4 linked regions of the Homo sapiens genome follow. The protein of the gene in region 1 interacts with the protein of each later gene in a pairwise test. Each region holds a gene or a part of one and is shown in the gene's direction. Other genes may lie near its edges.

Region 1 (3,831 bases):
CTTGACTACTTGACATGTTTTCCCTTTGCATTTGTTTAAAAAAAAAATCCATAAAGACTGGAGGGAAGATTAGATAGAATCCACCCTCTGCTGTATTAGAAAGCAGCAGATATGTATTTCAGTGACTGGACACTGTCTGCAAGCACACTCAGAAAAGGTCATTAATCATAGACGCTGAAAGTGCTCCAGCTGCTTCCGCCTGTCTTTTGCAGCATCTGTAGGTGCGTACACTAAGGGAGCTCCCATTGTTACCTTACAGGTATAAAAGAAGTGATTTTCATGTCTGATAAATACCATGATAGTGACGAGGCAACTGCTGCGAGGCTCCTGTTTAATATGGCCGGGGTGACATTCCGGTAAGTGGGGAGAATGCGGGCGGGGGGACGGGGTAGGGTGAAGGCTGATGAAGAGATGTATTTGACCTTGTCTCCTCCTTGTGATGCCTGACTTCCACACTTGGAGGTGTCTTTAGAAATGCAAGGGCATAAGAATTTAAAGACTATTATAGGGGTAGATATTTAAGAGCAGTGACAGGAAAATCTGAAGACCATTTGTTTAATGATTGTACTTTAATTTCAGTAACTTTCCGGGGTAATTAGACTAATTATTCAAGTACTGAGAAGTTTAAACATTCACAAGTTTTATAATAGGAATGCCAAACCTTGGTGAATTTTGCAAATGTAACAACTTTGGCATAGAAAATTTAGGATGAAAGTAGCCTGCCAGATTGAAACATTGGGGATTCTCTCTTTTTTTTTTGAGACGGAGTCTCGCTCTGTCACCAGGCTAGAGTGCAGTGGTGCGATCCTGGCTCACTGCAACCTCCGCTTCTCAGGTTCAAGCGGTTCTCCTGCCTCAGCCTCCCCTGCCACACCCAGCTAATTTTTTTGTACTTTCAGTAGAGACGGGGTTTCACCATGTTGGCCAGGATGACCTCATGAGCTGCCTGCCTCAGCCTCCCAAAGTGCTGGGATTACAGGTGTGAGCCACCTGGGGATTCTTTTTACAGCAACATTTTGCATTGAGATTTGAAGTCTTACAGATTTTTATGATTATCTTTGCTAAGAAATGGTTGTGAGCTATATTTTACTTGCAAGTAAGTTCAACTACCTTTGATTCATGGCAGAAAATTCCTTTGGGACTGTAAAGTTTTCCAGCGCTTCATGGTATTGGCGTTCAGCAGCAGTGGGACCATGGTCATAGGTGACGTGCCCTGGCCCCTTGTGCTGGTCATTAGGGATACAGCTCAGTGTATCTCATGAACTCAACCGTGGTGCCTTCTGAGACTTTAAATTCAAATTATTTGTATACTCTCTTGTTCAGTGATTCTTAAAAGAATTTGTTTTGTTCCCAAATGTCTTCTTTTTAATTGTTGTAGAAGAAATGAGGAACAAGTGAAAAGTTAATGAGCAAAAAAAAAAAAAAAAAAGTTGGTTTATGTTTGCATTTTTAGAATGTAATTTGAAAAATTACTCCTCACTAAAGGTAGTCGTTTTTTGCTATATATAAGCGGCAAAAGAAAATTTACTATTTTTTTGCATTAGAGAGACTCCAAGTTGGCTGCAGAAATTTTTCTAGAAAATAAGATAAATCTGATGGGAAAACTAGTAATCGGATATCATGTTGTGCAGCTGACTTGTTAGAAATCCTTTGACTCCCCAATAATTCGTGAACTCAGAGAGCTGAAAACATACAAACCACACCACCCCATGCATCTTTTTTTGTCTTAGTCTTTTCTGCTCTGTGTTTCTCTTGGTATGGTGCACTATAATTGGCTCCTATAGAGAGAAAATAGCAAGTGAATCCCAGGACATATTTTTCTCTGCACAGAAAATATGAGTTAAGCCAAAGTAAACAAATTGCTTTCACTACTCACCAGATAATAATTGTATTTTGTTTTTATTTTTAGGAAATTCATACCGAAGTGCAGCAAGATTGTCATTGACTTTGATTCAATTAACAGCAGACCGAGTCAAAAGCTTCAGTGAGTTACATCTCATTCAATCTCCAGAAGATTGGGATTATCGTCTTCTAAGAGGTTGCTAATGCCTTTCATCTTGAAGTTACACATAACTTCTTACTAGCCAGTATGGCAAAAGTAGGCATCTAAAGAATATAAAGCCTCAAATCTTCCTTACTGTCTCTCTTGTCACATGGAATCTACATGTGTTTGAACTATTGCTTTAGGGTTTAAAATAGGGGAGCCTGTGGTGGCCTGGTGCACAGGGCTAGAACGAGAGTGCCTCCCCTTCTTGTGTCCTGGCTGGCTGGGATGCTGGTGGCTCTTCAGAGGAGCATCAGCTGTCTGTCATCTGCTGCGATCCGGCAGCCTCTCTTCACTGCTACATGTGCTGGAAGGACAAATAAATAATTGTGGTTGTGTTCTTAATGGGGACGAGCAGACACACTGATCTGAACATCTGGCCCAAGTGAAGCATGGCATATAGTGCCCTTGGAAGAAAATTAGGCCTCAAATGACAGTAGCATTGAAGTGTTTGCTGCAGAGTTGAGGGAAACCCCCAGCCACCCTCCCGGAATCCGAGATAGGGTGGCACATCTGTCCTGACAGACGAGGAGTGTAACTGAACCAGGAATATTTCCTCCATTCCTGCTCTCCCACTGCACACAGGGTGGTGGCACATTATCCCTCTGGGGGGTGGGGACGCCTGTTGTTTTGGCTCAATTTGGGTTTGTTGGTCACATGGAGCTCTTCCATTTCGTTTAGCTGAATAATGAGTTGTTCCTAGAGGAGACAGCCTGTCTCTCCTTGTTGCCCCCAAAGCCCATGCCCTGCCGTGGTGGCAGCTGGGGCTGTGGATGGGAGGGGTCCCCAACATGGATGTGTTGCCCCTCCTCCGCATGCCAACGCAGTTCATGTACAAGGCCCCTCTGCAACTGGAGAGAAAATTAATTCCTATCCCGTGAGTGGATTGTGAGAAATTCCACCCACGTGGAGACAGCTTACTGCAGCACTGTTGGTGTTCGGAGCTCTTCTGTGCCCTGGCTCCATGCTTTCACCTACACAAGCATCACCTTCCTAATCACCGCGGGGCGGGGAGCGTGTGGCTGTGCCCCTTCTCTTTAATCTCATTTAATTTTTATTAAACATGCTCAGTACCTGTGTTGAGAAAAGGCTTTCTTTATCCTAAAGATTATTACCTTTTTAAAGTGCTCTTATATTTTCATGAGTTTTTATTTTGTCTCTGAGATTTTGTATTCCACATTCTAGGGTATTCTGTAATTTGGCTCCTTACCAATATTATTAAAATCTTATTAAAATCTACCCTACCAAAGCATGTACATTTTTATGTTATTATAATTATATGCTTAATTTTCTGCTCCTGTCCTTTCTGTATTGTCTCCGAAGCATATTACATATGTTTTAATGCTCAAAGAATAATTTGAGATGCCCAAGCTGTGTGCGTTCCCCAGGGTTGATGTCTGGGGCTGCTTTATGGATCAGATTTATGTAAAATGCGAAGGCAGCCGCTAGCCCTACGCTCTCTCCTGTGTACCCTGCCCCTGGTCCCAGGTGTGGCCATCTATCTGGTAGGGCCCAGGCCTCTGTCCTCCCGGAAGGCTTCAGTCCTGAGTTCTGCCCTTTGCTGACTTCTCACCTTATCCTCTTTCCAAGTCTCTCTTCTCTTCTCTCCTAAATTTCCTTCTCTTTTCTCCTCCAAACTCCTCGCCCTGTGTTTGCTCCAAAATACATAAAACAAAAGGTATGTGGAAAAAAGAATCAGTAGACTTAAAGGTAGAAAATTAGAGATTTCTCTATTGCCGCAAGTCACAAGAGTTGTGAGTCCTGTTAGGATGGAGTGTGTCATTTTC
Region 2 (7,411 bases), on another chromosome or scaffold:
CCTTACAACAGCTCTGCCTACAAGAAGATATTACTTACTTTTCCAGATTAAAAAAATAGGACCCAAATGGATTAATTGCCCAAGATGGTACCATAAATAATAAGAAGCAAATTGTATTTGAGCCCACGTCTGTCTGGTTCCAGAATCTATTTTTTTCACTATGCTCTACTGTCTCTCTATTCAAATGTATGATAGAAAACTTAGGTGAGATAAAGAGATATGATCTCTCCCAGATACTCTGGAGTTTTGTAGCTCTGATCCCGGAACAGTACTAAGCATTTCTCTGCCTCCGTCCACTTTCCTCTTTGACATTGGAGATTCACATCTGGCAGAGAAACCTGGAAAATGATAATAACTTCTTATGTCCAAAAGTACTTTTGCACACTCACATGGTCCCTGCCCCACACTCATACCCCAACCCTGTGAAGCTCACACTTCAAGAACTAGCTCTATATATGTCTCCTCCAGGAAACTTTCTTAAAACCCTCAGGCTGGCTGACTGCCAACTCTTCTGCACCTCCTACTCCACCTGTGACAACCTATCTTATACCTTACGATAGCTTTTAAAATCATTTATGTTTCTATCATCTTCAATAGACTTTATGCTTCTGTACGGCAGAGATCATGTTTTATTCATACTTTAACCTCTCTGTGCTCCAGGTTGCTTATCTTTAAAACAGAGATCATAATAGTACTAACCTCATAATATTTTATTTTATTTCTTAAATTGACAAATAATAATTGTACACATTCATGGGGTAAACAGTGACATTTCAATACATATAATGTAAGTGATCAGATCAGGGTAATTATTATATTCATCATCTCAAATATTGATCATTTCTTTGTGTTGGGAAACTTCAATATCCTCCTTCTGCTGATTTTAAAGTATGTAAAATATTATTATTAACTATAACCATATTACAGTCGTATAGAACACTAGAACTTATTCCTCCCACCTAGCTGTAATATTGTATCCTTTTACAAATCTCTCCCTCCTTCCCCCTACCCTTCCCAGCTCCTCCTATCCTTTGTTCTACTTTTTACTTCTATGAAATCAACTTTTTCTTTTATCTTACACGTATGAGTGAGAACATGTGGTGTTTAACTTTCTGTTTCTTAGGCTTATTTCATCAAGCATAATGTCCTTCAGTTTCATCTATGTTGCTGCAAATGACAGGATTCCATTCTTTTTTATGGCTGAATAATATTTTATTGTGTATATGTACCCCACTTTCTTTATGCATTCATTTGTTGTTGGACACCTAAGTTGATTCCATATTTTGACTATTGTAATAGTGCTGCAATAAACATATGGGTGCAGATATCTCTTTGATATACTGATTCCCTTTCTTTTGGATAAATTCCCAGTAGTGGGATTGCTGGATCATATGGTAATTCTAGTTTTTTTTTTTTTTTTTTTTTAGAAAACTCAATACTGTTCTCCATAGTGACTGTACTAGTTTACATTCCCACCAACAGTGCATAAGAATTCCCTTCTGTCTGCTTCCTCACTAGCATGTGCTTTATTTTCTTTGTCTTTTGATAATAGCCATCCTAACTGGGATGAAATGATATCTCTTTGTGGTTTTAATATGCATTTCTCTGATGATTAGTGATGTTGAACTTTTTTTCATATATTTATTGGCCGTTTGCATGTTCATATAGCTTATTTAATGAATAAAGATAATATTCATTAAACATTTAGAATCCTTATAGTACCTGGCACATAGTAAGCTCTGAGCAATGTTAGGTCAATATTATCATCATTTTGTTATCATGGTGATTGTAGTTAATGTCACATAGTAAAGTACACAAAAACATGTATGCTAAATGTTATTAATTCATGAAACATTTTTATTGTTTCCTATGTTCAGGACACTCTAGACTACACTGAAGTAAAAGGAGGCCATTTAAAAATATGAGTGGGAAAAAGGAACAAGATATATACATAAATCATTCTGGTACAGAATAAAAAATAGTGATGGAAGAGAAGTAACTCATCAGTTTTGGAATCATTAGTGAGCGGATCATCAGTGTTCTTGGTAGAGAATATTTTCAGACTAAGAGTATCAGGGAAGACTGTAAGAAGGAGATGGATCTAGAGGAAAATATAAGATTTGAATTTGTAGATACTTGTGGTAGGTAGTGGTTTGATGAGGTCAAGATATTCCAGCAATGACTATGTAAGCAAAGGTAAGAAAAATCTTGACAGAGGAGCTATCATGAGCAAGAAGGTTGTTTTCCCAGTCAAGGCTTATCAATTGCATTCCAGATGTGCTGACCCCTGCAATTTCCCCATACGTGGGAAACTAGACTGCATAATTTGTGGTAGTGGGGGTCTGTGATCCCACTTTCCCCTGGTTTAAAAACAATCTTGAGGTTTGTTTAGGATAATAGCAATTGTTGTCTAGGAGTTAAGCTTGGAGAAGAATGGAAAGATCTTGAATGTCAGAACACAAATTTTGCATTAAATTTGATTTGCTTTCTATTTAATAAAGCAGCTGGGTTCTTAAAATTATGAATAAAAATAATGATAATTTATGAACTAGAAGGTTCTCCCTGTTCTTATTCACTGTAGATAATGGGAAGGCAGTTATATGAAAAATCATTCTGGACTATAGATGGCTTGCCTCTGCCTTTGAGGTATGACACTTAGGTTCTGAGCCCAGATCTGGTTCACCATGTGACTCTTTTCAAGTGCCACTCCTCCCCTGCCTTTAGTTTCTCCGTCTGTAAAAGAATAAATATGAAGAGTACATAGAGATGCATTCTAAAGATATCTCCTATTCTAAAACCTTTGAGAAGGAAAGAACATGTAACGGGGTGCAGTATTAAGAGCAGAAATTATTTATCTCAATGAAATAGACTATTGTTCTTAAGGAGCAACACTACTCCCACCCTAAGCTTACTTCCTAAGCCTATTCAACATTGAAAAGAAATCCTGAATTTTATGATTCTTCCAAACACGTACTTTGGCATACAGTTGGAGAACCTAAAAATTAGTAGGCCCTAGGTTGTGGCCTCTGCAATCCGATACTCCTAAATGCTGAATGGATCCAGGCGTTGCTGACCCACAGCAGTTCATTAGTGGGAGTCCTCCACTAATAATGTCCATGTCTGGCTGAACCATCCGTGGTTAATATTTGTAATCATGGCCCTCAGGCATTGGAAAAATCAAAGGATGCCCTCTGAATCACCAGAAAAAGATTAAATTAGATACAACTCCAGGTTTCTTGTTGGGAGTACATTTTATTATATTTCAATGTTTTGAAAATTGGGACTAGAAGCCTACTGTGGAAGGATCTTTCATGAAGTAGAGTATGTGACTAATCTGCACATCTCCTTCCTTAACCATTTCAGATAACAGAGTTTTCTGGACTTCTGGAGAATAAGATTATTATTCTCAAGGAGAGATGATCACCTCAGGAAAATCTGGACTATTGAAAAAAAAAGGTAGTAAATACAACACAATTTTTCCTGTTAAACATTTTGCATATAAACGAAATACAGTGTGGGCTTTAGAAATATTTTGATATGAAAGTAGCACTTCAAGAGATTTGTGGTTTTGCATCTTCCTCTAGAGCTCTGTACAAGAAAAATACTCTATCCCTGCAACTTCACAAAAATGATTAGGTATTGCTTTTGGAAGTACTTATTATCAATAAGACGCCTCCCCACCTTTGGGGACTTCTTGCAGGTTGTTGGAAAAAAGCTAAAAAGAGCACCTCAAAATATCCTCAGTGGCTTTTTTGAAGAACTTTAGAAGCCTTGGAGCCTGCTCATGGAACAGTTTTGAGGTGGAGGCAGGCAGGAAAACACTGAGTTTGAGTAACAAAGAAGCGAGAGAATATTAACCTTTGACAGCTCCATAACTACTCTCACCCCACTCTCGAAAAACAAAACAAAACACATACAGGAATATAACAAGCAATGTGAAGTCAGTGGGGAGAGGAGAGGGAAGCAGACAGCTGGAAAGTTACTGCAGCAAGTAGAAAGAGAAACCCAAATTGTGAACATTAAAAACGATTCGTAAATCTCTCCTCCCTGCCTTCTGAATAAAACCATACCCTGCCTGGAGACACTAGCCTCCTCTAAGACTTCAGTAATTCGTCCTGATGCACGCAGTACTAGTCCAATCCATTTTCTAGTTTGCAGAGGAAAATCCGGTCCGGCGTTTATTTTTAGCAGCGCTTCCCTGTGACCGAATGCTACAGCTCCTCAGCTGGGATAACTGAGGACCGTATTGGGGAGGGAGGCGAAGGGGGCGGGGGAGCGGGAGGCGGTGAAAAGGGGAGGGGGGACGCCCTGCGCATGCGTGCCAGCGCCCATGCAAATCTGCTGTGCATCCAGAGAGCAAAGTGGGATGATCTGTCACTACACCTGCAGCACCACGCTCGGAGGACAGCTCCTGCCTGCAGCTTCCAGACCCAGGTAAAAAAAAAAAAAAAAAAATCTGAGCGGGCACTGTGCATGCATTTCAGTATCAGATGCGCGTCGCAACGTATCCCCTGTAGAGGCAATCTGCTGCTGCTCCTAAGTGTCCTTTGGTGGCTGATTGCAGCTTCAAGGTTTAAGAAATCCCATCTTTCAGGAAGCCTGAGGGGAAGGAAGGAAGTACGGGCGAAATCATCAGATTGGCTTCCCAGATTTGGGAATCTGAAGCGGGCCCACATCTTCCGGCCAACTTCCATTGAACTTCCCAGCACTCGAAAGGGACCGAAATGGAGAGCAAAGGTATGTGGTTGTCCCTATCGGGGGACTTCCCGCTGCATGTGCGTGTGGCCAAGGCAATCCTCGGCGAGGGGACTGCAGTGCTTGGGGAGCGAGCATCATACTAGGTCGATAGAGGAGGAGATGCTATGTCCATTGCAGCACTGGGGAAGTGTGGCAGGAAGGCGACTTCTTTTTAACTCCCACAGCTTGGAAGACAGTGTTTAATACTCCATCAGTTGCGTAGTGAACTGTGATGAGTTTTTTGGGGGGAGGTGGGGAGAGTCCCCCCAAAATGGAGGAGGAGGAGGAGGTATGTGTTAGTAAAGCAATATCTTTTCTGTATAATGGATGGACTCAAATAAATCTATTTCATTTGCTTTAGAATTGCTGACAGGCACGTTTGTACCTGATATCCAATAATGCATTGCTAAAAAAAAAATGTTTGAATTTCACCACCCCCACCTCATGAAGATGGTATTTCTGGGTGTGTATGACCACATCCTACTGCATTTTGAATATATATCAGCAGAGAAATTGGGTCTATTTGGAACAGCATGCGTTAGAACTGACCTCTAAGAAGAACAGTGTATGGGAGTACTGCTTGGCTTCCAAGCATAATGCATTTACTAGTTCTGGACATGTACATATTAATGTTCTCCTCATAAGCAAATCTGCATAATGTATGCATGCCAACTGATAAATGAACTGTAAAAATCAACTTCTGAATGGCATATTGAACACACATAAACACAACGACTATTCTAACCACAAGATTAGATATCTTTTGGATTTAACCCCATCTATGCAGGTCTGTTTCTCCTTCTCCTTAAAACGCCCACCAGGTTGTGAGAGCCTTGAGTGATATGGTGGTCAGATATCCAGGAGGCATACTGGATGTATTTAATTCTGGCGAAATCAGAAGAAATGATGTCAACTTTTATGAAACTATATTCATTACCCAGAACTCGGGAAGCTATATTTGAAACAAGATTTTATTTTTAAACCAGGAATGTCAGTCACTGTGGTAATGTACTTAGGATCAGGGAATGGTGGTGAGTTACCTATTTCTGGGCTGATTAATGAAACTGGAGTGTTGAATGATAGCAGTTCTATGTTCAATAAAGTGTTTTAAGTATTTAATTGGTAGATTTAAAGTATTTGAACCTAGGCAAGCATTTATAGTATAAAAAGAGCTGAATCAACATGGATTAAGACTAGCAGGCAATTTTCAGTTCAGGCAGATTATTCTTATGATACATTGATGGGCATCTCCACGTCTGACAATGATGTACACATATGAGAGAATCCATGTCTATAAGTATATTTGAGGCATATATTATTAACTCTATTATACTCCATTTTAAAATAAAAAGGCAGTCCTTAACATATAAAGGTTTGTAATATTCTAGCTGACTAAGTATTTCTGGGACATAAGGTTAACAACAGAAAAAGAATATCATTTTACTATGAAACAGTTTTTCTTGCTTAGATGACACCTGGTATTTGGTCACTAAATTTAGTTATTTGACAAAGGTTCTTGGTAACAGTTTTGCCTCCAATGTGTATACTAATTCCTGTTCAATCATAAAAAGAGGCTATATCTCTCGGCAGTAATCTTTTATTTTCCTTCGTTGCCCATAAAACATGCTACGTGTCACTTAGCATTCCAGGTGGTTTAATGATCATATTGCTAACAGTAGAGTTCTAGCTGTTCTTTCAGTCTTTTGAATTCAGAAAGGAGAAAGAATCTCAGAAATACATCCGAAAAGAATCAGTTCAGAAGTTCTATGTCAATCCAGACAGCAATGATATAGTGAATCACAGCACTGATCCAAAGGCAACGAAGACTTTTGCTGTAGGCCAACATTGTGGTCATTTTGCAGAGGTCCCATAATTGCCTCTGAAAAAAAAAAAAAACATGATGAAAGTCTTTATGCATGTTAGTTCCTGGACTTTCTTAATGAAGCTGTGTTAGCTGCTTGGCAATCAGATTAAAAATGGCTAATTACTTATACATTGGCCTCACTTTCTAAGTTGGTGCAAATGGCACAGCTAACGATGGTAGCTAACTTGAAATTTTTATTCCAGCCAAAAAGAGTGTATTAAGAGAAATGTGTATTTGTGCAATACTGTAATTGGTGCATCTTTCACATTTTATGCTGCCGTGTACAAACTTCTTCCCCCAACAGATTCAAATCTAATTCTAGGAAGACATTCTCAAATGTATGTATATATAATACTTTTCTAGTAGAAACTCTTTAAAGATAGAGTCATATTGCGTGACTCAGTTGAGGGTTCAAGAGTTCTCTATCCCATACCCAGATCTAATGGCCTGTTTAATCTTGAATCCCATCGCCAACACTTGACAACTTTCACATTACCTCTAGCATTTGACAGCCTTTCTTAGAGCATTTGTCCAGCATCCAGAAAGTTGAACTTCAGCTATTTACAAATAAGATCAATTTATTTTTGCTTCCTTATTTACAACTTTGCATCACTCCCTGTCATACAGGGTAAAGAAGAGAGGAAAATACATCAGTTGACCTGAGGTTCAATTCATGATCTAATTTCAGCGATTTTTGTGCACCATGTACTTAACATTGTCTCAAAGATTTGGGTTGGTACGCAGTCCGAGCAGCTCTGACGGAATTTGTGCCTTGCGTATCTTAAGGGCTTGAGATTCTTAAATGAGTTA
Region 3 (7,035 bases), on another chromosome or scaffold:
AGGCCTGGCTGGGTGCGGTGTGCACCACCACACCTGCTACTCAGGAGGCTGAGGCAGGAGAATTGCTTGAACCCGGGAGGCGGAAGTTGCAGTGAGCCGAGATCGCGCCATTGCACTCCAGCCTGGGCAACAGAGTGAGACTCCATCTCAAAAATAAATAAGTAAGTGCTGAGAATAAAATAGGAGTTGTCAGCCAGGGGTTTGTGAAAGGTGGAACTGTCTTGGCCTCCTGGTGTAGTGAGCATTCCAGAGAGGCCTTCCGAAATGAACAATAAATGGGATAATGCCTCATTTTGTTCAGTAAGGAAGTGGGGTGGTGTGAGTTGTTCATTCAGTGCCAGGCACTTTCCTTGGTGCCACATACATAGAGATGACAGCACCAGGCCTGTCCTGGATGAGCTTCCCCAGCGAGAGGGGAATACCTATGATCAGGGCAGTGATAATGGTCAACTCAGGGGCTGTGGGATCAGAGTAGCCTGTGGGTGAAATAAAACACTTTCTCTTTTTTTTTTTTTTTTTTTTTTGAGACAGAGTCTCTGTCGCCCAGGCTGGAGTGCAGTGGCACAATCTCAGCTCACTTCAACCTCTGCCTCCCAGGTTAAAGTGATTCTCCTGCCTCAGCCTTCCTAGAAGCTGGGATTACAGGCGCACACCACCACTCCTGGCTAATCTTTGTATTTTTAGTAGAGACGAGGTTTTACCATGTTGGCCAGGCTGATCTTGAACTCCTGACCTCAGGTGATCCGCCTGCCTCGGCCTCCCAAAGTGCTGGAATTATAGGCGTGGGTCACCGCACCCGGCCAAAGAAAACACTTTCAACACAGCTTTGGGTTGTGATCGATCCCAGCTGTGCTTCTCTAATCTTGCACAGGTTTCTTAACTCGTATGGGCTTCAGTTTCTTTGGAAGGTGTGTTCTCTTTGCAGAGTTGAGGGGTGTGTTTGGTAAAAGCAGAGAAAGTGAGCCAGGGACTGGTGCGTTGTAGACGCTCCAGGCCATTGGTTCCCCTCCTTTTAGTTCTGAGTCCACATGGTGTTTGAAATATCCCCACAGCTTCCAATGCATGTTTACCCACATTGCCTTAGTTGATCTCTCCTAATAGCTTTGAGAGCCATAATCTCTCTTTTTCAGATGAAGAAACTAGGGCCCAGGCCGGGCGCGGTGGCTCATGCCTGTAATCCCAGCACTTTGGGAGGCCGAGACAGGCGGATCACGAGGTCAGGAGATCGAGACCATCCTGGCTAACACGGTGAAACCCCGTCTCTACTAAAAAATACAAAAAATTAGCTGGGCGTGTTGGCAGGCACCTGTAGTCCCAGCTACTGAGGAAGCTGAGGCAGGAGAATGGCGTAAACCAGGGAGGCGGAGCTTGCAGTGAGCCGAGATCGCGCCACTGCACTCCAGCCTGGGGGATAGAGCGAGACTCCGTCTCAAAAAAAGAAAAAAAGGAAACTAGGGCCCCAGAATAATCAGCTGGTTGGTGAGAAGCCTCTGTTTGAACCTTTTAACTTCCAATCCCATATCCTTTTATATGACAGTATATTTATCTGAGATATACTGAAATGAGTCACTTTTATTATGAGTCTTCTGATGAGGCCTGTGTTTTAAAAGTCTGGGATCTGTGAAGATTTCCCATGTGCAGAATCTCCTGGCATTACCATTTGGTGTGTTAATTTTTAAACATGGTAAACAGAGATAATAAGGGCAAAAGATTCCTTGGAAAGATGCAGGTCTGGGAAGCCAGTAGGGGATGCTGAGCGCTCTTTTGACTGACTGGATGCTTCCTTTCTCGCCTTTTGAGGTGGTGTGGACCCTGCAAGATCCTGGGGCCGAGGTTAGAGAAGATGGTGGCCAAGCAGCACGGGAAGGTGGTGATGGCCAAGGTGGATATTGATGACCACACAGACCTCGCCATTGAGTATGAGGTATGGATTGACAGGGAGTTGCCACAGGGAAGCCAGTATAGGAGGTGTCAGGCCCAGGGATAGCTGGTGTAGGAGGTATCTTGGGGAGCACAGGTAGCCAGTAAGCAAGGTGTCTTGGTTTTTCCAGAGCTTTTTTTTTTTGAGACGGAATCTCTCACTGTCACCTGGGCTAGAGTGCAATGGCATGATCTCGGCTCATTGCAACCTCTGCCTCCCGGGTTCACGCGATTCTCCTGCCTCAGCCTCCCAAGTAGCTGGGACTACAGGCGCACACCACCACGCCCAGCTAATTTTTTGTATTTTTAGTAGAGACAGGGTATCACCATGTTGGCCAGACTGGTCTGGAACTCCTGACCTTATGATCCACCCACCTTGGCCTCCCAAAGTGCTGGGATTACAGGCATGAGCCACTGCGCCCAGCCGGTTTTTCGAGAGCTTTTAAGAGCTCAGAGCACTTTGCAGAGGTGGCTCTTGATCCTCTGAGCCACCTGTCTCTCTTCACCACCTTTAGGAAGTAGATCGTATGACCCAAAAACACCAGGTCATTCACTTAGTCTCAGACATTGGTACATTCCTTTATCCATCTACCCACATGTTCAGTGAGCAGTCATTTGGGAGCTCGATGTGCCAAGCATTTGTGATTCTGACACAAGATGAGATCTTGTTTCCAAGCAAGATCTCTCCTAGTCTAGCAGGAGAGAACAGCAGGTAGAAAGATCATCTCAATATAGAAGTGCTAAAAGAAGAGGCGCATAAAGGAAGAAGGGACTGTTTGCTTGTGGGGGAGCTGGAGGGGACAGGGAATGCTTCACGTTAGAGAGAACCTCTGAGCTGAGCCATGAGGGATGCGCAGAGGAGGAGGAAGGGCTGAGGAAACAGCGTGCACAAAGACATGGAGTCGTCTCACTTGGTTGGTTGGTTTGTCTGTTTATTCAGCAGATATTTGAGAGTCCCTCAAGTGCCAGGTAGTGTTACTTGGTGTTGAGGATAAGGCAGTGAACAAAACTGACAAAATCTCTGCCTCCGTGGAGTCTACATTCTAGTATTTTAAATCAAGGGTCAGCAAACTTTTTCTCTAAAGGACTGGTTGGTATTGGAAGCATTGCAGGGCAGTGGTCGCTGCTACAACCATTCAGCTGGGCTCGTAGCCGAAAGCAGCCATAGACACTATACAAACAAATGGGCATGGCTGTGTTACAATAAAACTTTATTTACAAAAACAAGCAGTAGGCTGTATTGGGCCTGTGAACTATAGTTTGCTGACCCCTGTTTTAGATAATAAGTTCAATGGAGAAAAATACATCAGGAAGAGAGGATGGGAGTACTGCGTATGAGGCAGGGTTTTTGTTTTTTCGAGACAGAGTTTTGCTCTTGTTGCCCAAGCTGGAGTGCAGTGGCACAATCTCGGCTCACTGCAACCTCTGCCTCCCGGGTTCAAGCAGTTCTCCTGTCCCAGCCTCCGGAGTAGCTGAGATTACAGGCACGCGCCACCACGCCGGCTAATTTTTTGTATTTTTAGTAGAAATGAGGTTTCACCATGTTAGCCAGGCTGGTCTTGATCTCCTGACCTCGGGTGACCCACCTGCCTTGGCCTCCCAAAGTGCTGGGATTACAGGCGTAAGCCACCGCGCCCAGCGGGTTTCTTTTTTAAAGGGTGGGATAGGGTAGATCTCCCTGATAAGCTGACCTTTGGGCAAAAACAGGAAGGGAGTGACTGAAGCATGTGGGTCTTTGGAAGAACAATTCAGGCAAAGCAAAAGCCCTGAGGTCTGATGAGCCTGGGTTGCTTACAGACCAGCAGGGGCCAGGTGCCTGGAGGTGTCTGGGTTGGGGGCTTCCTCTGGGCCTTGGAGACCACTACCTGGAGAAAGGGGAGAGGCCCACTTTGTCTGGGTGGCCAGAGTGAAGGGCCGAGTACGGAGCTGGGGAAAGCATAATGCAGCCGGATTGGGAGGGTCTCTGAATAGCCATGCTGAAGGTAGCGCTGTTACAGAGCCGAGGGCGCTCCTGGCAGCCTCTGGGCCCAACCTGGCTCACAGACACTTTTAGTCTGGCACTCGAAGTATTTTAAAGTAATAGGAAGCAGATGCTGATATTTGAAACTCAGATTTCATGTGAAAATCTCGATATCTGATTTTCTTGAAATATCTTAACCTGGCCGGAGTGAGCCTTCACCCCTCCCTCCTTCCTCCTCCAGGTAACAAGTGAATGAAAGAGGCCGCTTTATTCCTCAGAGTATACAAGTCCAGGTTTCACTCTTACTAGACCAGCTCAAATAGAGGCACCCATCCCTGAACCAGTCTCCTGCAGCAAGAAATGGGTGGTTGGGAGCGGGGTGAGAACAGGCTGGCCGCCCCTTGAGCTACGCAGGGAGTGGGGAGTGATTACCCAAAGGAACATCAGTCTGCAATGACCAGAAGCAGGGGAGATGGAGACCAGGCAGACAAACACGGTGGCCACTACAGGTGACCACTGGAGCAGGCCTGCTTTGGGAGTTAGGAACTGAGGGCTGTTTACAGGGGCTGGGGGAGGGGTGAGTCACTTTTTCAAAAAGTTTGGCCACTGATTGCTCAGTGAGGGAGGCATCTATCTGCCCATTTGGATGCCCCTGGCTTTCCCCTGCCTGGCTATGCCTCGGGTGAGAGCCCGGGCTGGGGCTCCTAGGGCCTCCCACAGGTCACGCGTGGGCTTCAGATGTCTCAGGCCTCCTGGCTCTGCCAGACACTACAGCTTCAGCTTCAGCCAATGTATTCATAACTCTTCAGCAGACACCCCCTGAGGGCCAGCCATGTGCAGGGACTATGGTAACTACTGCAGATGCAAAGAAGCCCACAGGCCCTGCTCCAGTGTCTCGTGGGGTGGCGGGAATGCCGAGGACCGTCCCCGGGAGGCTGTTGTGGGAGTGGGCACTGAAGGCCTGCGGTGAAGCCTGGGAAGTGAGAAGGAGATGCCTCCTGTGGAATCCTCTCAATCTCCCCCCACACCCACCGCTCCCGCCCTGTCCACTGCCTGGGGACTGTGCTGTCACACAGAAAGGCCTCAAGGCTGCTAGGCCCACATCACTTGGTCTCAGCCGTGTTGTTTAGCCAAACCCTGGTCTGACATCATTGCAGGGTTTAGGAAGCTCCAGCCAGGGTTCTTCCTGACCCCCTCCCTCTCTCCCTCCCTTCCTTCTTTCCTTCCTTCCTCTTTTCTTTCTGAAGAGAGCCTGAGGAAGAAGTTTCCTCTGAGAGAACTACAGTGCCCCCCATGATGGCTTTCTTTAAGGCCTAAAATCCTTTTTCTTTTTTGAGATGGAGTCTCGCTCTGTCGCCCAGGCTGGAGTGCAATGGCACGATCTCGGTTCACTGCAACCTCCGCTTCTCAGGTTCAAGCGATTCTCCTGCCTCAGCCTCCCGAGTAGCTGGGATTACAGGTGCCCACGACCACGCCCAGCTAATTTTTGTAGTTTTAATAGAGACAAGGTTTTACCATGTTTGCCAGGCTGGTCTCAAACTCCTGACATCAGGTGATCAGCCCGCCTCGGCCTCCCAAAGTGCTAGGATTGCGGGCGTGAGCCACTACACCTGGCCTAATTTTTGTATTTTTAGTAGAGATGGGGTTTCACCATGTTGACCAGATTGGTCTCAAACTCCTCACCTCAAGTGATTCGCCCACCTCGGCCTCCCAGAGTGCTGGCATTACAGGCATGAGCCACCGCGCCCGGCCACCAAGACTGCATTTCTAACAAGCTCCCAGGTAATGCCAGGGCTGGGTGTCCTGAGCCGACATGGAGAGAAGCCAATGTTCTGAAGGCCCCATACTGACTTTTTCATTCTGAAGGCCCCAGATTGACTTTCTGGTTCTGAAGGCCCCGGACTGACTTTCTGTGGGGAGGAACTGCTCTTTGGAAGGCCGTGTCTCAGCTGCCGCTCTCAGCACAGACTGCTTGCCAGTGAGAAAGTTCATGGACAAATGTATAATGGCATGTGTCCACCATTCCAGCGCCATACAGAACCGTTCCACCGCCCTCGGTTCCCCTGTTTTCCAGCAGTTCACCTCTCCTTCCTGCCCCTCACCCCCTTAACCCCCCAGCAGTCACTGATCTCATTTTTTGTTGTTGTTCTTTTTGAGGATTTTATGTTTTTAGGGCAGTTTTAGGTTCGTGGCAAAATTGAGAGGAAGGGGAAGGTACAGAGACTTCCCATAAGTCCCCTGTCCTCCCGCATGCCCAGCCTCCCACACTATCAACAGCCCATACCAGGGTGGTCCATTTGTCACAACTTATGAACCTACACGGACATCATTATCCCCCAAAGCCAAAAGTTTACATAGGGGATCACTCTTGGTGTTGTGCCTGCTGTGGGTTTGGACAAATGTGTCATAGCCGGTGTCCACATTCTAGCATCATCCAGAGTCATTTCACTGCCTCCATGTCCTCTCTCCTCTGCCTGTTCATCTCTCCTTCCTCCTCCCTCCAGGCCTGGCGACTCTTGATCTTTTCACTGTCTACCTAATTCTGCCAGAATGTTATGTAGTTCATTTTTTCAATAATCGTTTTTCCAAGAACCCTCTCATATCTAAAAGCTTTTACAAAGCACTTGGCATTTTGCATTTGAAGCATGAAATCCTTTAATGCGTCCCCACGTTCTTCCCCCTGCTGGGACTCAGTAGATGTCTCTCTCTCTTTGCTGCTGGGCAGAAGCACAACAGAGTTTGATCCCCTGGACTGCAAAGTCAAACAGATCTTGTTTCAGATCCCAGCTTTTTTTTTTTTTTTTTTTTAGAGGGGGTCTCACTCTTTTCACCCAGGTGGAGTGAAGTGGCGCAATCTCGGCTCACTGCGACCTCCATCTCCCGCATTCAAGCACTTCTCCTGCCTCAGCCTCCCAAAGTGCTGGAATTACAGGCGTGAGCCACCACGCCCGGCCTAATTTTTGTATTTTTGGTAGAGACAAGGTTTCACCACATTGGCCGGCCTTGTCTCGAATTCCTGACCTCAGATGATTCACCTTCCTCAGCCTCCCAAAGTGCTGGGATTACAGGCAGGAGCTGCCGCGCCTGTCCTACACCACATCATTTTGGAACAGTTGCTCACCCTTTGAGCCTCAGTATTCTCATCGTTAAAATGA
Region 4 (7,035 bases), on another chromosome or scaffold:
CACTGTGTGGCTCATCCAAGTCAGTGACCTTGCTGTAGCCTTGGGAATACCTGTTCTAACCCTCTCACTGGTGGCAGATGGGAAACTGGCCTCTGTGAGGATCTTGCTCAGGAGTCGCTTGTAGGCCTCGAAGACAGATTCCCAGGATCGACCTGGTCTTGCTTCTGCTCACAGTGCTGCCTCCTTCATGAGCCATTCGGCCTCCTGTGACCCAGGAGGCATTAGCAAGACCTCCCCCAGGCCTGGCCTCCTGGCCGTGTGTCTGCTCAGCCTCTCGCCACCTCCCTCTACCTACCTCAGGTGCAAGTTTGCTTAGAATGAACAGACATCATAAAATAGTATAATTGATTTTTTTTTTTTTTTGAGACAGAGTCTCACTGTGTTGCCCAGGCTGGAGTGCAGTGGCGTGATCTCAGCTCACTGCAACCTCTGCCTCCTGGATTCAAACGATTCTCATGCCTCAGCCTCCCGAGTAGCTGGTATTACAGGTGTGCGCCATCATGCCCAGCTAATTTTCGTATTTGTAGGAGAGAGAGGTTTTAGCTATGTTGGCCGGCCTGGTCTCGAACTCCTGGCCTCAAGCGATCCACCCACCTCAGCCTCCCAAAGTGCTAGGATTACAGGCATGAACCACCAGCCAATAAAATAATAGAACTGGCCGGGTGCGGTGGCTCACACCTGTAATCCCAGCACTTTGGGAGGCTGAGGTGGGCAGATCACCTGAGGTGAAAACTTCCAGACAAGCTTGGCCAACATGGTGAAACCCTGTCTCTACTAAAATACAAAAATTAGCCAGGCATGATGGCGGGTTCCTGTAATCCCAGCTACTTGGGAGGCTGAGACAGGAGAATCGCTTGAACCCGGGAGATGGTGGTTGCAGTAAGCCGAGATCGTGCCATTGCACTCCAGCCTGGGCAGTTGAGTGAGACTCCGTCTCAAAAATAATAATAATCATCATCATCATAGAATTGATTTTTTTAAATTCAATTTTGTTTTTATCAAAGTGCCATATGACTTGCCTCTACCAAGTCAAGAGCATTAAAAGCCCTGTATCAAATAATAGCAATCCACTGCCCTTCCCCTGGGCACCTCACCCGGCTTTCTCTGTCTCTTCATGCATGGGCTTCCATTTTTCTCAATAGTCTCACTCTGTCGCCCAGGCTGGAGTGCAGTGGTGCAAGCATGGGTCACTGCAGCCTTGATTTCCCCAGACTCAGATGATTCTCCCACTTGAGCCTCCAAGTAGCTGGGATTACAGGCACGTGCCACCAAACCTGGCTAATTTTTGTGTATTTTTTGTAGAGACGGTGTTTTGCCATGTTGCCCAGGCTTGTCTCAAACTCTTGGGTTCAAGTGATCCACCCGCCTCAGCCTCCCAAAGTGCTGGGATTACAGGCGTGAGCCACCGTGCTCAGCCTATCCTGTTGTTTCTTGATCTATCACCTGTAAATATCTATTGACTTTGCCTCGTCTGGTAGATGAGAATTTAGTTCTTCCCATGACCAGTCTGTTTCCTCTCATCCCACCTTTCCAACATAGTTATTTTTCTATTTTTGGCTAAATTAATATTAGTACAACGGAGATTTTGTTCGGGAAATCTTTTCCAGATGCCTCCTAGGCTCTGTTGTAGGCACTAGGGATAAAAGAATAAGAAAGCAAAGATCCTACTCTTGCGGAGCCCTCATTCTAGTCAAAACAACTCTATGTTTAACTTTCTGAGGAATCTATGTTTCTTTTCTTAATTCAGCCTGTTCTTGTGTTTTGAGAGGGTGGGGGTAATTTCCTGTTTTGTTTTTTTCATTTGCACTCTCCTTGTTTTCTCAGTATGTTTTCCACAATTTCCCATCTTTTTTTTTTTTTTTTTAAATTAAGTCTTGCTCTGTTGCCAGGCTGGAGTGCAATGGCGTGATCTTGGCTCACTGCAACCTCCAGCCCCCGGGTTCAAGTGATTCCCCTGCCTCAGCCTCCGAAGTAGCTGGGATTACAGGCACGTGCCACCACGCCTGGCTAATTCTTGTATTTTTAGTAGAGACGGGGTTTCACCATGTTGGTCAGGCTGGTCTCGAACTCCTGACTTCAAGTGATCCACCTGCCTCGACCTCCCAAAGTGCTGGGATTACAGGCGTGAGCCACCATGCCCGGCCCCATTTTCTTCAGTCTGTTTTCCGCCCTGTAGTCTCTCCCCCTTGTGCCCTCCCCCTGCCCCTGCCCCTTCTCTTTGGATTCCCCCATCTTGGGGGTCCCTTTCCTGGTTTACTCCCTGATCTCCCGTGGAGAATATCCTCCTGTAGCTTTCTGAGAAAGGGCACGTGGGATGTCAATTTTTTGAGACCTCGGGTCTGTCTTTTTTGGTCATTGTGGTTCCCATATTCCTTTCAGTTGACATTTTGGCTCATTCGATTCAAGAATGAACGTCAAGGTTGACAGTAATTCCTGTGTGGAAGTGTGATGGCCTTGTCACATTGTCCTTTGCTGTCACATGGCTATTGCCATTCTTATTGGTGATCCTTTATTTGTGATGTGTTTTATTTCTGATCTGTGAGAACTTTGAGGACTTTGTTTTTGTCCCTGGTGTTGGGAGGAGTCGTGATGGTAGCTGCAGGCACAGGCTTTTGTTTATTGTGCCAGATCCTCAGAGGGCGTCATCGGGAACACCATGTCCTTCTTGTCATGTATCTCGATGATGACATCCTGCTTTCTGTATTCTCTGTTCTGCTTTTTTCTATTTTTTTATTGTGGTAAAATTTACCATCTTAACTTTTTTTTTTTTTGAGACAGGATCTTGCTCTGTCGCCCAGGCTGGAGTGCAGGGGTGCGATCATGGCTCACTGCAGCCTCAACCTCCTGGGCTCAAGCGATCCTCCCACCTCAGACCCCCGAGTAGCTGGGACTACAGGCACGCGCCACCATGCCTGGCTCATTTTTGTATTTTTTTTGTAGAGACAGAGTTTTGCCATATTGCCCAGGCGATCTTCCCACCTCGGTTTCCCAAAATGCTGGGATTACAGGTGCGCACCACCGTGCCCAGCCCTTGGTCTATTTTTGAATTAGGTTGTTTGGTTTTTGTTGTTGAGTTTTAAGAATTCTCTACAAAGCACAATCGGCTAAGAGGAAAAAAAGAAAAAAGAGTTTTAGGAATTCTGCATATATTCTGGATATTAATCCCTTATCAAAAATGTGATTTGCAAATATTTTCTCCCATTCTGTGGGTTGCCTTTCTTTTCTTCTCTTCTCTGTTCTTTTTTTTTTTTTTTTTCGAGACAGTGTCTCACTCTGTTGCCCAAGCTGGAGTACAGTGACGGGATCTCAGCTCACTGCAGCCTCTGTTTCCCAGGCTCAAGCGATCCTCCCACCTCAGCCTCCCAAGTAGCTGGGACTACAGGCGTACACCACCATGCCCAGCTAATTTTCGTGTTTTTTGTAGAGACAAGGTTTTGCCACATTGCCCAGACTGGATGGTGTATTTTGATGCACCAGTTTTAAAATTTTTATGAAGTTCAATTTGTTTATTTTTTGTTACTTGGATCTTAGGTGTCACATCCAAGAAATTACTGTAAACTCCAATGTCGTGAAGGTTTTGGACTAGGCATTTTTCTGAGTTTTATAGTTTTAACTTTTACATTTAGGTCTTTGAACAATTTTGAGTTAATTATTATTATTATTATTATCTTCGAGACAGAGTCTCGTTCTGTTGCTCAGGCTGGAGTGCAGTGACATGATCTCGGCTTACTACAACCTCCACTTCCCAGGTTCAAGCGATTCTCCTGCCTCAGCCTTCTGAGTAGCTGGGACTGCAGGCGCCTGCCACCATGCCCAGCTAATTTTTGTATTTTTAGTAGAGATGGGGTTTCGCCATGTTGGCCAGGTTACTCTCGAATTCCTGACCTCAGGTGATCTGCCTGCCTTGGCCTCCCAGAGTGTTGGAATTACAGGTGTGAGCCACTGCGCCTGGCCTTGAGTTAATTTTTGTATGTGGTGTTAAGTAGTGTCAACTTCATTTTTCACATACCATTGTTGAAATGACTGTCCTTCCCCATTGAATGTTCTTGACACCCTTGTCAAAAATCATTTGATGCCGCCGGGCACGGTGGCTCACACCTGTAATCCCAGCACTTTGGGAGGCCAAAGCAGGTGGATCACCTGAGGTCGGGAGTTTGAGACCAGCCTGACCAACATGGAGAAACCCTGTCTCTACTAAAGATACGAAATTAGCCGGGCGTGGTAGCGCATGCCTGTAACCCCAGCTACTCGGGAGGCTGAGGCAGGAGAATTGCTTGAACCCGGGAGGCGGAGGTTGCGGTGAGCGAGATGGCGCTATTGCACTCCAGCCTGGGCAACAAGAGCGAAACGCCGACTCAAAAAAAAGAAATCATTTGACTATGTATTTGAGGCAGGAGAATTGCTGGAGCCCAGGAGTTCAGTGCCACAGTGAGCTGTGATCACGCCACTGCACTCCAGCCCGGGTGGTGAGACGCTTTCTCAAAAAACGAGAGCAGAGGGTAGAGTGGAAGACAGAGCCAGGCAGTGGTCAGGTGTCTTCCCAGGTTCCATCTTAGCCCTCCCTTTCTTCCCCCACCACTCTCCTTATGCACCCACAGGTATTTGACAACACCCCAGCAGCCTTGGACGGCACAGTGGCAGCTGGCGATGAGATCACCGGTGTCAATGGCAGGTCAATCAAAGGGAAAACTAAGGTGGAGGTGGCGAAGATGATTCAGGAGGTGAAGGTAAGGGCTGCTGCAGAGCAGGTGTCCAGAGGCAGCAACACATGTTTCTGAGACCTCCAGGCTGCCAGAGGTCCCAGCAGGCCTGGAAGGGGGTATCAGCCCTCACCGCCCCCTTCCTTGTCATGTGCAGGGTCAGGGTCACACTCCAGCCTCCCTCATCCATCCCTCATTCATTCAATAAATACTAATCGTGCTCCAGGACTTGTGCTGAACCTTGGCAAGAGAGTGGGCAGCAAGACCACAAGGTCCCCATGAGCTCCCAGGGAGCTGACAGACTTGGAACCACCCCTCAGGCAAGCCCATGTGTCCCCAGTCAGTGCCAGAGCTGAAGCTAAAAGTCCAAGGTGATCCTCCCTGGGTCAGTAGACACCCAATAATGTCAGCCGGGTCACGCTGGGCCTGTGAGGGCTAGGAGGGAAAGAAGAGTGCCCTTTCCCCATCCTGTAGGAACTTTCGGTCCCACACAGCCTCCTGGGCTCATAGACACCCAGAGACCCCCCTCCCAGGCCAGCTGATCTTCTGCTCTACAGACCAGAGTCACACACTGCCTGCCCCGCTTTCCCCCACCCCTGCCGCTCCAGGACTGGAATGGCAGGCGGCATCCCGGCCTCTCCTGAAGCGAGCATGCAGCCCCTTTGCCATTTCCTAGCGAAGTGGCTGCTAGCTAGTCTCAGGAAACCAATACTGTGAAAGAACTGATGTGCAGGCAGTGCACAGCCATGGGGTGATTTGAAAGTCTCGGGGGCAAGGGTCCCCACTGTGAGTTCAGCTTGGCCAAGGGTGGCAGCTACCTCCCTCAGCCCCACTTCCATCCTCCGGGTTCTGGCACTCCTGATAGTCCGCCTTCCTGCCTTAACCCAGGCCAGCCGCTGCTCCATCCTCTCTCCCCTTTATCCTCCTGTCCTGCTCCTGAGTAGTCCGTGCTTCTCTCCTTCCTTGCTGTAGGAAGAGTCCCATCCTGCACATTCTCCTATTCCAGCCCCTTTAGCCATAGGACAAATCAGGGCCTGGGGCTGGGGCTCAGAGCTCTGTTGTAAAAAAAGGAAGCAGCAAGGTTCATTGAGACCCCACAGCTGCCACTCCACGTGGTCTGGGTATCACTGCCTCAGGTATGACCTGTTAGGCAGAGGAGCTGATCATGGGAACAGGTGCAGGGGGTCTCGTTCTGGCCGAGTTGGGTTGTGTGTGCCCCATTTGGCAGCCCTTCCCCCCTCCGCATCTCCTCCCCATCTCCACTCGCCAGGTCCCTCCCTGTCCTCTCAGGCTTGGTCATACCAGCACCTCAGGTTGCCCATGAGGACAAGAGCTCTTTGTATTTGCACACAGCCATGACAGGGATGCAGCATTGGCCCAGCTCCCCTGTTTGGGTGCTGGGCAGGGATTACTCTCCCATCTTACAGGTGTCCACAGGCGGGGAGTGACCTGCTTGTGGTCACACAGCTGAACTGGAGCCCGGGCCCGACTCCCACTGCAGCCCGCTTGCCGTTGGCCTACAGCTGCTCCCTGTGGGGTGGCCCCTGAGCACGCCTGTGTTTCATTCTGCGGGAGCAGTTCACACCCCACCTCTGACTCTGATTGCATCTGCTCATTTTGGTTTCCCTTTGGGACTTGATTTTAAAATCCTGTTTTATATTTGGATGAATGTGGTCCCAAGTTCAAGGGCTTTTGGTTTGCAAGGATGAGAGTGAACACAGCGCCCTCCCGTGCTCAGGCAAGTCCTCTTGGGAGAAGCCTTTGTCTCCTGAGCAGTCGTTAGAAAGTGGTTTGTGTAATTCCCTGATTCGCATCAGCCTTGCGGGGCTGGGGCTGCCCCTGCCCCTCCCCTTGGTGCCCCAGCACCAGGCACAGAGCAAGTGCTCAGATGTGCTGTTCGATGAGTAGAGGGATTCCTGGGGATGGGGTGTTTTGGGGTGGAGGAGGGAATAATCAGTGTAGGGAAATGACACGGCAAAGGCTTGGAGTGTGGTTTGCGTGGGGAGGGAAGAAGGAGAGCCTGACCTGGCCGAAGCACAAGACATCAGAGACCGCCAGGCTGTGGGCCCGGTGCCGGCCCTGTCCCCACTGATTCCCCAGGGCTTGGATGTAGAGTAGGAAGGGAGGGGCCTGGGATCAGACAGGGTCACAAGGTGGGGCCATGTCACAGCGCTCAGCCTGGCCCTTACTGGGGCTTAGGATTCTTTTTTTTTTTTTTTTTTTTGAGACAGAATCTCATTCTGTCATCCAGGCTGGAGTGCAATGGTGTGATCTCAGCTCACTGCAACCTCCGCCTCCCAGGTTCAAGTGATTCTTTGCCTCAGCCTCCTGAGCA

Evidence for each region.
Region 2: the proteins of DCTD (region 1) and FGF12 interact in binary tests that used the Homo sapiens proteins (3 or more experiments, as listed by UniProt).
Region 3: the proteins of DCTD (region 1) and TXN2 interact in binary tests that used the Homo sapiens proteins (3 or more experiments, as listed by UniProt).
Region 4: the proteins of DCTD (region 1) and PICK1 interact in binary tests that used the Homo sapiens proteins (3 or more experiments, as listed by UniProt).

Annotation. Positions count from the first base shown.
Region 1 is NC_000004.12:182,889,556-182,893,386, reverse strand, and holds the end of DCTD (deoxycytidylate deaminase), read left to right. Parts: intron 1-259; coding exon 260-356; intron 357-1,909; coding exon 1,910-1,988; 3' UTR 1,989-3,296; downstream 3,297-3,831. UniProt on the Homo sapiens protein: Catalyzes the deamination of dCMP to dUMP, providing the nucleoside monophosphate substrate for the thymidylate synthase/TYMS.
Region 2 is NC_000003.12:192,724,507-192,731,917, reverse strand, and holds the start of FGF12 (fibroblast growth factor 12), read left to right. Parts: upstream 1-4,376; 5' UTR 4,377-4,434; intron 4,435-4,594; 5' UTR 4,595-4,724; coding exon 4,725-4,737; intron 4,738-7,411. UniProt on the Homo sapiens protein: Involved in nervous system development and function. Involved in the positive regulation of voltage-gated sodium channel activity. Promotes neuronal excitability by elevating the voltage dependence of neuronal sodium channel SCN8A fast inactivation.
Region 3 is NC_000022.11:36,471,622-36,478,656, reverse strand, and holds part of TXN2 (thioredoxin, mitochondrial precursor), read left to right. Parts: intron 1-1,800; coding exon 1,801-1,924; intron 1,925-7,035.
Region 4 is NC_000022.11:38,060,404-38,067,438, forward strand, and holds part of PICK1 (PRKCA-binding protein), read left to right. Parts: intron 1-4,598; coding exon 4,599-4,727; intron 4,728-7,035. UniProt on the Homo sapiens protein: Probable adapter protein that bind to and organize the subcellular localization of a variety of membrane proteins containing some PDZ recognition sequence.